2 linked regions of the Homo sapiens genome follow. The protein of the gene in region 1 interacts with the protein of each later gene in a biochemical or structural test. Each region holds a gene or a part of one and is shown in the gene's direction. Other genes may lie near its edges.

What was found.
Region 2: the proteins of PDHB (region 1) and DLAT form a complex in vitro, tested with the Homo sapiens proteins (2 studies listed by BioGRID and IntAct, with this or other methods).

Annotation. Positions count from the first base shown.
Region 1 is NC_000003.12:58,427,130-58,430,832, reverse strand, and holds the end of PDHB (pyruvate dehydrogenase E1 component subunit beta, mitochondrial isoform 1 precursor), read left to right. Parts: coding exon 1-176; intron 177-594; coding exon 595-705; intron 706-1,033; coding exon 1,034-1,125; intron 1,126-2,218; coding exon 2,219-2,360; intron 2,361-2,653; coding exon 2,654-2,799; 3' UTR 2,800-3,203; downstream 3,204-3,703. UniProt on the Homo sapiens protein: The pyruvate dehydrogenase complex catalyzes the overall conversion of pyruvate to acetyl-CoA and CO(2), and thereby links the glycolytic pathway to the tricarboxylic cycle.
Region 2 is NC_000011.10:112,042,387-112,049,438, forward strand, and holds part of DLAT (dihydrolipoyllysine-residue acetyltransferase component of pyruvate dehydrogenase complex, mitochondrial isoform 2 precursor), read left to right. Parts: intron 1-1,079; coding exon 1,080-1,147; intron 1,148-2,751; coding exon 2,752-2,844; intron 2,845-3,476; coding exon 3,477-3,584; intron 3,585-7,052.

The DNA of each region.
Region 1 (3,703 bases):
GCCTGTGCCTATAGTCTTCAGAGGGCCCAATGGTGCCTCAGCAGGTGTAGCTGCCCAGCACTCACAGTGCTTTGCTGCCTGGTATGGGCACTGCCCAGGCTTAAAGGTGGTCAGTCCCTGGAATTCAGAGGATGCTAAAGGACTTATTAAATCAGCCATTCGGGATAACAATCCAGGTCAGCACAGGGACCCTTTGGTTTTTTTTGAAGATTGAAAAACTAAAATGATATATTTGCACAGAGGAAACCATTAAAGTCTTTTAGTTAGGCTTAGATATATCGTATAGAATGTTAATACTTTATATAGTAAAGATAGTAAAGAATGTGCTTGCTTTTCCTATTTCCGAATATAAGGGGGCCAGCTAGGTAAAGGGGACATTTACTGCACACCCACAATACTGGTTTGATAGATAAAATTATATTGACCACTACAAATTTAAGTACCTAAACTGCTCTCAAGGCTGCTGGTCATGGTAGAGATAAGGCTAATCAGCACAATGAAACTTCTCACAAGATGAATGATATTGCTTTCTATGCAGTTTTAGTCATTCTGGATGTGATTAATTACTTTTGTTTAAATATTTATGTTTTTCAGTGGTGGTGCTAGAGAATGAATTGATGTATGGGGTTCCTTTTGAATTTCCTCCGGAAGCTCAGTCAAAAGATTTTCTGATTCCTATTGGAAAAGCCAAAATAGAAAGGCAAGGTAAGAAAACTAAGATATATAAACAGTATTTTTAATCCAGCCCCTCAATTTTGGTAAAATTTAATCTAGAAGTTACTGTCATTTACTTTGACTGAAAAATTATAGGATGAGCTCAAGATGCCCCAATTTCTCATTCAGTTGTGCTTTTCTAGATCTCAGTCTGGTAGGTTTGTGTTTCATTTCTAGGAAGGCTGCCACATTCCTCAGCTCACTGGAATGAAGTTGAATTGAAGACTTTATGAATGAACAAGAGCCACAGCTGGCGGCACAGTGGTGTAGCATCTTCAGTTTCAACCTGATCTCTGATCTGTGACCACTCTGTTTTCAGGAACACATATAACTGTGGTTTCCCATTCAAGACCTGTGGGCCACTGCTTAGAAGCTGCAGCAGTGCTATCTAAAGAAGGAGTTGAATGTGAGGTGAGTGGACATTTACTTGTTCTTAAAGAATTAGAAGGGCTCCTTTTAGATTTAAGACCCAGAAGAGTTCTGTAACAGGTTAATTAGATGTAAAACCTTGCTTTGTCACTCATTTCTGTCTCTGCTTAAAGCTGGGAACCTGCCTGCAGTTCACATACTTAGCTTTTTACCACTCAGGTCACTTAGGTTCTGGATCTTTTTTTTTGAGAGACAGTGGGAGCTCTCTGAACCTCTTCTGGTTCTCAGTGATACCCCCCGAGAGAGAAAAAAACAGGCTTTTGTTCTGTTGCCCAGGCTGAAGTGCAGTGGCTGGATCATGGCTCACTGTAACCGTGAACTCCTGGGCCCAAGTGATGCTCCCACCTCACCCTTCTGAGGTTCTGGATCTTTTAGAAACTCACCATGTGCTAGTTATACTTGGGCAAGTTATATACTCTAAATCTGTTTCATCAGCTATAAAACAGGGATAATATAAATACTGTCCCGTCATAGGGCTGTTGTGAGAATTACACTTAGTGTAGTGCTTGGTACATGATGGGCACTCAGCTGTTAACTGTTAACTCATTTTGATGAGGGAATTTAAAGTGAAGGAGGATTGGCTGGGCGTGGTGGATCACCTGAGGTCAGGAGTTCAAGACCAGTCTGGCCAACATGTTGAAACCCCATCTCTACTAAAAATACAAAAATTAGCTAGGCGTGGTGGTCTATGCCTGTAATCCCAGCTACTCCAGAGGCTGAGGCAGGAAAATGGCTTGAACTGGGAAGGCGGGGGTGGCAGTGAGCCGAGATCACGCCACTGCACTCCAGCCTGGACAACAAGAGCAAAACTCCATCCCAAAAGAAATAAAAAAGTGAAGGAAGATAAATGAATCCTATAACTGCACAGAGCTGCTTGTGGTAGACATACAGATCTTTGTTTTAATTAAAATTTTTCCTTTTACAGTTTGTACATTCATGAATAGGTATTCATAGGCAGATTAGATTTTCCTAGATACAAAGATTAACAGGAAACAAAAAAGGAAATGGTATTATGGGGATAAGGCTCTATTTGTGCTGCAATAGCTCTGTAAACTTGATTATATTACCTGTTTAGGTGATAAATATGCGTACCATTAGACCAATGGACATGGAAACCATAGAAGCCAGTGTCATGAAGACAAATCATCTTGTAACTGTGGAAGGAGGCTGGCCACAGTTTGGAGTAGGAGCTGAAATCTGTGCCAGGATCATGGAAGGTATTTCAAAGAAACTGGTTCTAGAATACAGTCAAGCTATAGTAAACATCATGTACCTGAATACGTACAGGATAAAGAGATTGAAAGCTAGGAGTGGCCAAACGACTTCAACTTTAAACTTGTAAGTTTGGCATTTCTCTTCAGGCAGATATTTTTAAAAGCAAATCCAGAAAGCGGTTCCCCATAATTAGCATTCCTTACATTTTCTCTTCCTGGTCAGCCACACCTCTGTGCCAAGGTGGTAGTGCCCAGCTGGCATTTGCACTCTCTCAGTTGAGCCTTCCTTCTCCTAGGTCCTGCGTTCAATTTCCTGGATGCTCCTGCTGTTCGTGTCACTGGTGCTGATGTCCCTATGCCTTATGCAAAGATTCTAGAGGACAACTCTATACCTCAGGTCAAAGACATCATATTTGCAATAAAGAAAACATTAAATATTTAGTTTGGACTTGAATATCAAGTCGTTGAAATTTATTTGAAATACTTGCTGGCACTGCACCTGGATTTGTACTGCAAGACCTGACTATTCATAACGGAAAACGATTTCTAAAGCAACAGCAGGTATTTTTGTACAGGGAAGTTTAAATGTGTTTGTGTATGGAAAACTCTCCACTCTCCTCCCCTAGATGCCATGCTTCCTTTTGTCTGTTACGGTTGCCATGTTCTTTGAATAACAAATTATATAACATTTTATCCTCTCTCACCACAAGGACAAAGTATGGATGTGGCAGAGTCCTCATGAAAGATGTATCCAAACAAGATAACTTATATGTATAAAATTAAAGCATATAATATACATTTACTGTTAGTTTGTTTTGATAAGGAATAAAGGAATTTCTAACATGACTAATTTTTTTTTTTTTGAGACAATGTTTGGCTCTGTTCCCCAAGCTGGAGTGTGATGGCACAATCTTGGCTCACTGCAGCCTCCACCTCCCAGGTTCAAGTGATTCTCCTGCCTCAGCCTCAGTAGGAAATTAGCCACCACATCCGGCTAATTTTGGTGTTTTTAGTAGAGGTGGGGTTTCACCATGTTGGCCAGGCTGGTCTTGAACACCTGACCTCAGGTGATCCACCTGCCTTGGCCCTCCCAAACTGCTGGGATTACAGGCATGAGCCACCACACCTGGCCATGACTATTGTATTTTTATATTGAAAGAATTGGCTGGGCTGGGCGTGGTGGCTCATGCCTGTAATCCCAGTACTTTGGGAGGCCAAGGCGGGCAGAACATGATGTCAGGAGATCAAGACCATCCTGGCTAACATGGTGAAACCCTGTCTACTAAAGCCGGGCATGGTGGCATGCGCCTGTAGACCCAGCTGCTCGGGAGGCTGAGGCAGGATAA
Region 2 (7,052 bases), on another chromosome or scaffold:
TTCTGTCTTTTACAAAGGAGAGAAATCTAATAGGGGTACTACCACCTCTGTTCTAGAGCTCCTAGTGAGGATAAATACAATCCTAGCCAACTCAGTTTTCGTAATGAAGGAAAGGAATTGGGAAGAACTACACACAACAAGAGTCCTTTTTAAAGTCTGCCTTGGGGGAAGATGAATCAGTTTGACCAAATTTTTCCTAGAAGTGGGCCAGTGTAAAAGGTATTCTATAATAATAACTAAATTCTGAATCTCCGTAGAATTAAAGGTCAAGATTATCTACTTGGGTCCAAAATTAAACCTAAGAGGCTGTAGGTGGGAGGAGGGAGGAAATTGAATATAAGTAAAATTAAACCTACTGAGAGAACTTTGAAGATCCTTCCTCATGTGTGACATTGCACCTTTTTCCTTCATTTCCTTTAACACGGGCCAGTTTAGAGCCTTGGCTACTGTGAAAAAGCTATGAGTCATAGAGACCACATAAGGAATGAATGATTCTAAAGATAAGATAATTGCAGTAAAGAGTTATTCGTGCTATTTTGGGGTGAAAAAATCGACTTGATTTGTCAAAACAATTATTGTTATACCTGTAAATTCTGTATAAAAGGAATTCTTTATGGTCACATAAATCCAGAACCCAAATGAAATCTATTTCACGGCTTAGGAATGGTTTTTTGGAGCTAACCAGGAGGAGGCAGCTAGTTTCCCTTTTGGAGATATAAACTGTGCTCGGCATTATCCTTATGCCACATTTCCCAATTTAAAAGTAAGGAAGATGAAAAAAATTAAGTACAACTTGGATAAAACTCTAAAAGAGAAATACATAAAGGAATATTTGCAGTAGTTAAAAAGAAAAGACCCACTCCAGATCACACACTGGTACTCTGTGTGGATTAAAATTAATAGTTGACAAAAGCTGGTATTTGTAGGTAGCACCTTAAGGGGTAGGGTTAAGGCTGTGAACCTTTCAGAATGTTTTTGGTAGTAAACCCTTAGGAGCTTGCAGTTTAGGATCACAGCGTTGATCTCCTTGGGGAACCAATGGTATGTCATCATGTATGTGATATTTATGTCTCTTACAGGGACAGGACCAGATGGTAGAATCACCAAGAAGGATATCGACTCTTTTGTGCCTAGTAAAGTTGCTCCTGTGAGTTATGTGTAGCTCTTACTTTTTTTGCAGTTTGTCTCTACAGCCTGTTAGACCATTTCATACATTATTTATGAACGAAATAGCTCAACCAAGATTGTTTTCTTCTAATTTCAGTGGTTTAATAATACAGTCATCCCTCGGTACCCATGAGAGGTTGGTTCCAGGAGCCCCCTTGTATACCAAAATTCGCAAATGCTTAAGTCTCTTATATAAAATAGTGTAGTATTTGTATATAACTTACCCACATCCTCTCAAATACTTTAAATCATCTCTAGATTACTTATAATATTAAATACAAGGTAAATACTATGTAAATAGTTGTTATATTTTATTGCTTAGGAAATAATAATAAGGACAAAAAGTCTGTACTTGTGCAGTTCAGATGCAACCATCTGTTTTTTTCTGGAATATTTTTGATTTGCCTTTGGTTGAATCCAGTGATGCAGAACTTATGGATATGGAGGGCCAAGTGTATTTAGATATTTGTGTGCTATCATTTATATACAAGATCAAAGATGATATACTACATTGACATGTATTCCACATTATGTTTTGAGCTAGTTAATCGGTTTTTGCTTTGAAATAAAAGATTTGTTCTTTTTTTCTTTTTCAAAATATTTTAAAGTACAGTTGAATGAGTTGTTTTTGGTGTTTGGTTTTTTTTGTTTGTTTGTTTTTGAGACAGTCTCACTCTGTCGCCCAGGCTGGAGTGCAGTGGCGCGATCTTGGCTCATTGCAACCTCTGCCTCCTGGATTCAGGCGATTCTCATGCCCCAGCCTCCCAGGTGGCTGGGACTACAGGTGCATGCCATCACACCTGGCTAATTTTCGTATGTTTAGTAGAGACAGGGTTTCGCCATGTTGGCCAGCCTGGTCACGAACTCCTGGCCTCAAGTGAGTCATTGTGAGGCTCAAGTGAGCCTCCCAACCCCCTTTTCTTAACATTGTTTAGGATAATGGATTAGCTTGTTTATACTTATTTATTATTCCTTGCAACTTAAGAATGCTTCCATTGCTTTTCTTGAACATAATTTTGCAAAAACAAAATTATTTTGACACAAACTGGTCATTGAACATACTCTGATACAAAGAAAAATGACACTTAAAACATGACTTCAGAATTCTAAGTAAAAAAATTAAAACTCTTAAAACAAGCAGAAGTCTCTTTTGCTCACTGGGGACAGAAATAGGTATTCTATAAAGCTTAGTTTTTAGACTGGACATGGTGGCTCATGCTTGTAACCCCAGCACTTTGGGAAGCCAAGGTGGGTGGATCACTTGAGCCCAGGCATTTGAGACCAGCCAGGGCAACGTGGCTAATTTCCGTCTCTACTAGAAATCCAAAAAAATTAGCTGGGCATGTTGGCGTGCACCTGTAGTCCCAGCTACTCTAGGGGCTGAGATGGGAGGATTGCTTGAGCCCAGGAGGTTGAGGCTGCAGTGAACCATGATTGAGCCACTGCATTCTAGCCTGGGTGACAGAGCAAGACTCTGTCTCAAAAGACAAAAAAAAAAAACTGCATAGTCACTGGCAGTCTTTCCCAGGTACTTACGCTAAGATTGAATCACAGTTACTAAGAGCTTTTTCTTTCCTCCCATAGGCTCCGGCAGCTGTTGTGCCTCCCACAGGTCCTGGAATGGCACCAGTTCCTACAGGTGTCTTCACAGATATCCCAATCAGCAACATTCGTCGGGTAAGAGAATTACCATCATCTGGAATCAGCTGTTAGGGGCATCTTTAGGTTGTTTAGTTGCTTCCATAGTTTTTAACACATTAACAGAGGCTTTTTAAGTTGGGAATATTGGATGATTACTTTAAGGGAAGTTTTGGCCAACTGAATACTTGAATCACTTTGTTCCTATTAGAAGGGCCAGGCGCAGTAGCTCATGCCTGTAATCCCAGCACTTTGGGAGGCCAAAGCGGGCAGATCACAAGGTCCAGACTTCGAGACCAGCCTGGCCAACATAGTGAAACACCCCGTCTCTACTAAAGATACAAAAATTAGCCGGGCATGGTGGCACATGCCTGTAGTCCCAAGTACTCGGGACGCTGAGGCAGGAGAATTGCTTGAACTTGGGAAATGGAGGTTGTGGTGAGCCGAGATCGCACCACCGCACTCCAGCCTGGGCAACATAGCGAGACTCCATCTCAAAAAAAAAAAAAAATCTAGGAGGTGTTATATTATGGCGGAGTCCTCCATCTTTCAATTATAATAATGCTTGAGGTAAGTATTAGCAGAGAGTAAGGTGAAGAGACAAACAGAGCCCTAAATTAGTTAAGGTCTTAACTCAAGATAATTGATTTTTTAAATCTCTTTGGTTTCAGGTTATTGCACAGCGATTAATGCAATCAAAGCAAACCATACCTCATTATTACCTTTCTATCGATGTAAATATGGGAGAAGTTTTGTTGGTACGGAAAGAACTTAATAAGGTAAAAGTTCTGAAAATTCCAACTTTCTAAGTTATAAAAATTTTGTCTTTCCCCACCAAACATTTATATTTTTGTCCATATATTTTGTTACAATATATCAGTTGGTGGTTACTTTCTTGATCTTGTCCTTTGAAGCACAAGATTTTAAATATTGGTTATGTCCACTTTTATCAATTTTTTTCTTCTGTGCTTTTGGTATTATATCTAAGAAACTATTACCTAGTCTAAGGTCATGAAGATTTATACTTTTGTTTCCTTGTAACAGTTTTATACTTTTAGTTCTTATATTCAGGTCTTTGCTCTATTTTGAGTTAATTTTTTATAGGTGGTGTGAGATAGGAATCCAACCATTGTTTTGCATGTGGACATTTATTCTTTCATCCCAGCACCATCTTTCCCCATCGAATTGTCTTGGTATCCTTGTCAAAATTAATCATATATGTGAGAATTTTATTTCCAGATTTTTTTTTTTTTGTAGATCTTGTTATTTTTTGTTTTGTTTTGTTTTATTATACTTTAAGTTCTGGGATACATGTGCAGAACGTGCAGGTTTGTTACATAGGTATACACGTGCCATGGTGGTTTGCTGCACCCACCAACCCATCATCTACATTAGGTATTTCTCCTAATGCTATCCCTCCCCTTAGCCCCCCACCCCCCTACAGGTCCTGGTGTGTGATGTTTCCCTCCCTGTGTCCATGTGTTCTCATTGTTCAACTCCCACTTACAAGTGAGAACATGCGGTGTTTGGTTTTCTGTTCCTGTGTTAGTTTGCTGAGAATGATGGTTTCCAGCTTCATCCATGTCCCTGCAAAGGACACAAACTCATCCTTTTTTTTATGGCTGCATAGTATTCCATGGTGTGTATGTGCCACATTTTCTTTATCCAGTCTATCATTGATGGGCATTTGGCTTGGTTCCAAGTCTTTGCTATTGGGAACAGTGCTGCAGTAAACATATGTGTGCATGTGTCTTTATAGTAGAATGGTTTATAATCCTTTGGGTCTATACCCAGTAATGGGATTTCTGGGTCAAATGGTATTTCTGGTTCTAGATCCTTGAGGAACCGCCACACTGTCTTCCACAATGGGTTGAACTAATTTACACTCCTACCAACAGTGTAAAAGCGTTCCTATTTCTCCACATTCCAGCATCTGTTGTTTCCTGACTTTTTAGTGATCGCCATTGTAACTGGCGTGAGATGGTAACTCACTGTGGTTTTGATTTGCATTTCTTTAATGACCAGTGATGATGAGCTTTTTTTCATGTTTGTTGGCCACATAAATGTCTTCTTTTGAGAAGTGTCTGTTCATATCCTTTGCCCACTTTTTGATGGGGTCATTTGTTTTTTTCTTGTAAATTTGTTTAAGTTCCTTATAGATTCTGGATATTAGCCCTTTGTTAGATGGATAGATTTCAAAAATTTTCTCCCATTCTGTAGGTTGCCTGTTCACTCTGATGATAGTTTCTTTTGCTGTGCAGAAGCTCTTTAGTTTAATTCGACCCCATTTGTCTATTTTGGCTTTTGTTGCCATTGCTTTTGTTGTTTTAGTCATGAAGTCTTTGCCCATGCCTGTGTCCTGAATGGTATTGCCTAGGTTTTCTTCTAGGGTTTTTATGGTTTTAGGTCTTACGTTTAAGTCTTTAATCCATCTTCAGTTATTTTTTGTATAAGGTGTAAGGAAGGAGTCCAGTTTCAGTTTTCTACATATGGCTAGCCAGTTTTCCCAACATCATTGATTAAATAGGGAATCCTTTCCCCATTGCTTGTTGTTGTCAGGTTTGTCAAAAATCAGATGGTTGTAAATGTGTGGCATTATGTCTGAGGCTTCTGTTCTGTTCCATTGGTCTATATATCTGTTTTGGTACCAGTACCATGCTGTTTTGGTTACTGTAGCCTTATAGTATAGTTTGAAGTCAGGTAGCATGATGCCTCCAGCTTTGTTCTTTTTGCTTAGGATTGTCTTGGCTATACGGGCCCTTTTTTGGTTCCATATGAAATTTAAAGTAGTTTTTTTCTAATTCTGTGAAGAAAGTCAATGGTTGCTTGATGAAGATAGCATTGAATTTATAAATTACTTTGGGCAGTATGTCCATTTTCACGATATTGATTCTTCCTATGCATGAGCATGGAATGCTTTTCCATTTGTTTTTGTGTCCTCTCTTATTTCCTTGAGCAGTGGTTTGTAGTTCTCCTTGAAGAGGTCCTTCACATCCCTTGTAAGTTGTATTCCTAGGTATTCTATTCTTTTTATAGCAATTGTGAATAGGAATTCACTCACAATTTGGCTCTCTGTTTGTCTGTTATTGGCGTGTAGGAATGCTTGTGATTTTTGCACATTGATTTTGTATCCTGAGACTTCACTGAAGTTGCTTATCAGCTTAAGGAGATTTTGGACTGAGATGATGGGGTTTTCTAACTATACAATCATGTCATCTACAAACAGACAATTTGACTTCCTCTTTTTCTATTTGAATACTCTTTATTTCTTTCTCTTGCCTGATTGCCCTGGCCAGAACTTCCAATACTATGCTGAATAGGAGTGGTGAGAGAGAGCATCCTTGTCATGTGCCAATTTTTGAGACTGAGTCTCACTCTGTTGCCCAGACTGGGGTGCAGTGGCGTGATCTTGGCTTACTGCAACCTCCACCTTCCAGGTTCAAGCAATTCTCGTCCCTCAGCCTCCCGAGTAGCTGGGATTACAGGTATGAGCCACCAGGCATGGCTAATTTTTGTATTTTTAGTAGGGACAGGATTTCACCATGTTGGCCAGGCTGGTCTCGAACTCTTGACCTCAAATGATCCACCCACCTTGGCCTCCCAAAGTGCTGGAATTACAGCCATGAGCCCCCATGCCTGGCCTATTTCCAGGTTCTTAATTCCATTCCATTAATCTCTGTATACCCTTAATGTCAGTACCACAGTCTTGATTACTTTAGCTTTGTAATAAGTTGTAAAATCAGGAAACGTGAGTCATCTTTGTTCTTTTTTCTCAAGATTTTTTTTTTTTTTTTTTTTTTTTTTTAAAGACAGAGTCTTGCTCTGTCACCCAGGCTAGAGTGCAGTGGCGTGATCTTGGCTCACTGCCAGCTCTGCCTCCCGGGTTCATGCCATTCTCCTGCCTCAGCCTCCCAAGTAGCTGGGACTACAGACGCCCACCACCATGCCCGGCTAATTTTTTGTATTTTTAGTAGAGACGGGGTTTCACCGTGTTAGCCAGAATCAAGATTGTTTTGTCTGAGTCCCTTGCAATTCTAAGTGAATTTTAGGATTAGCTTGTAAATTTCTGCATTGAAGCCAGTTGACATTTTGATAAGGATTGATTGGATGTATCTGCTGATCAGTTTGGCAAGTGTTGCCATCCGAAGAATATAGTCTTTTCATCCATGAACATGTAGATGCCCCTGTATTAGTTAGGTGTTCTTCAGTCTCTTTCAACAGTTTTTTTATAGTTTTTCAGAGTGTAA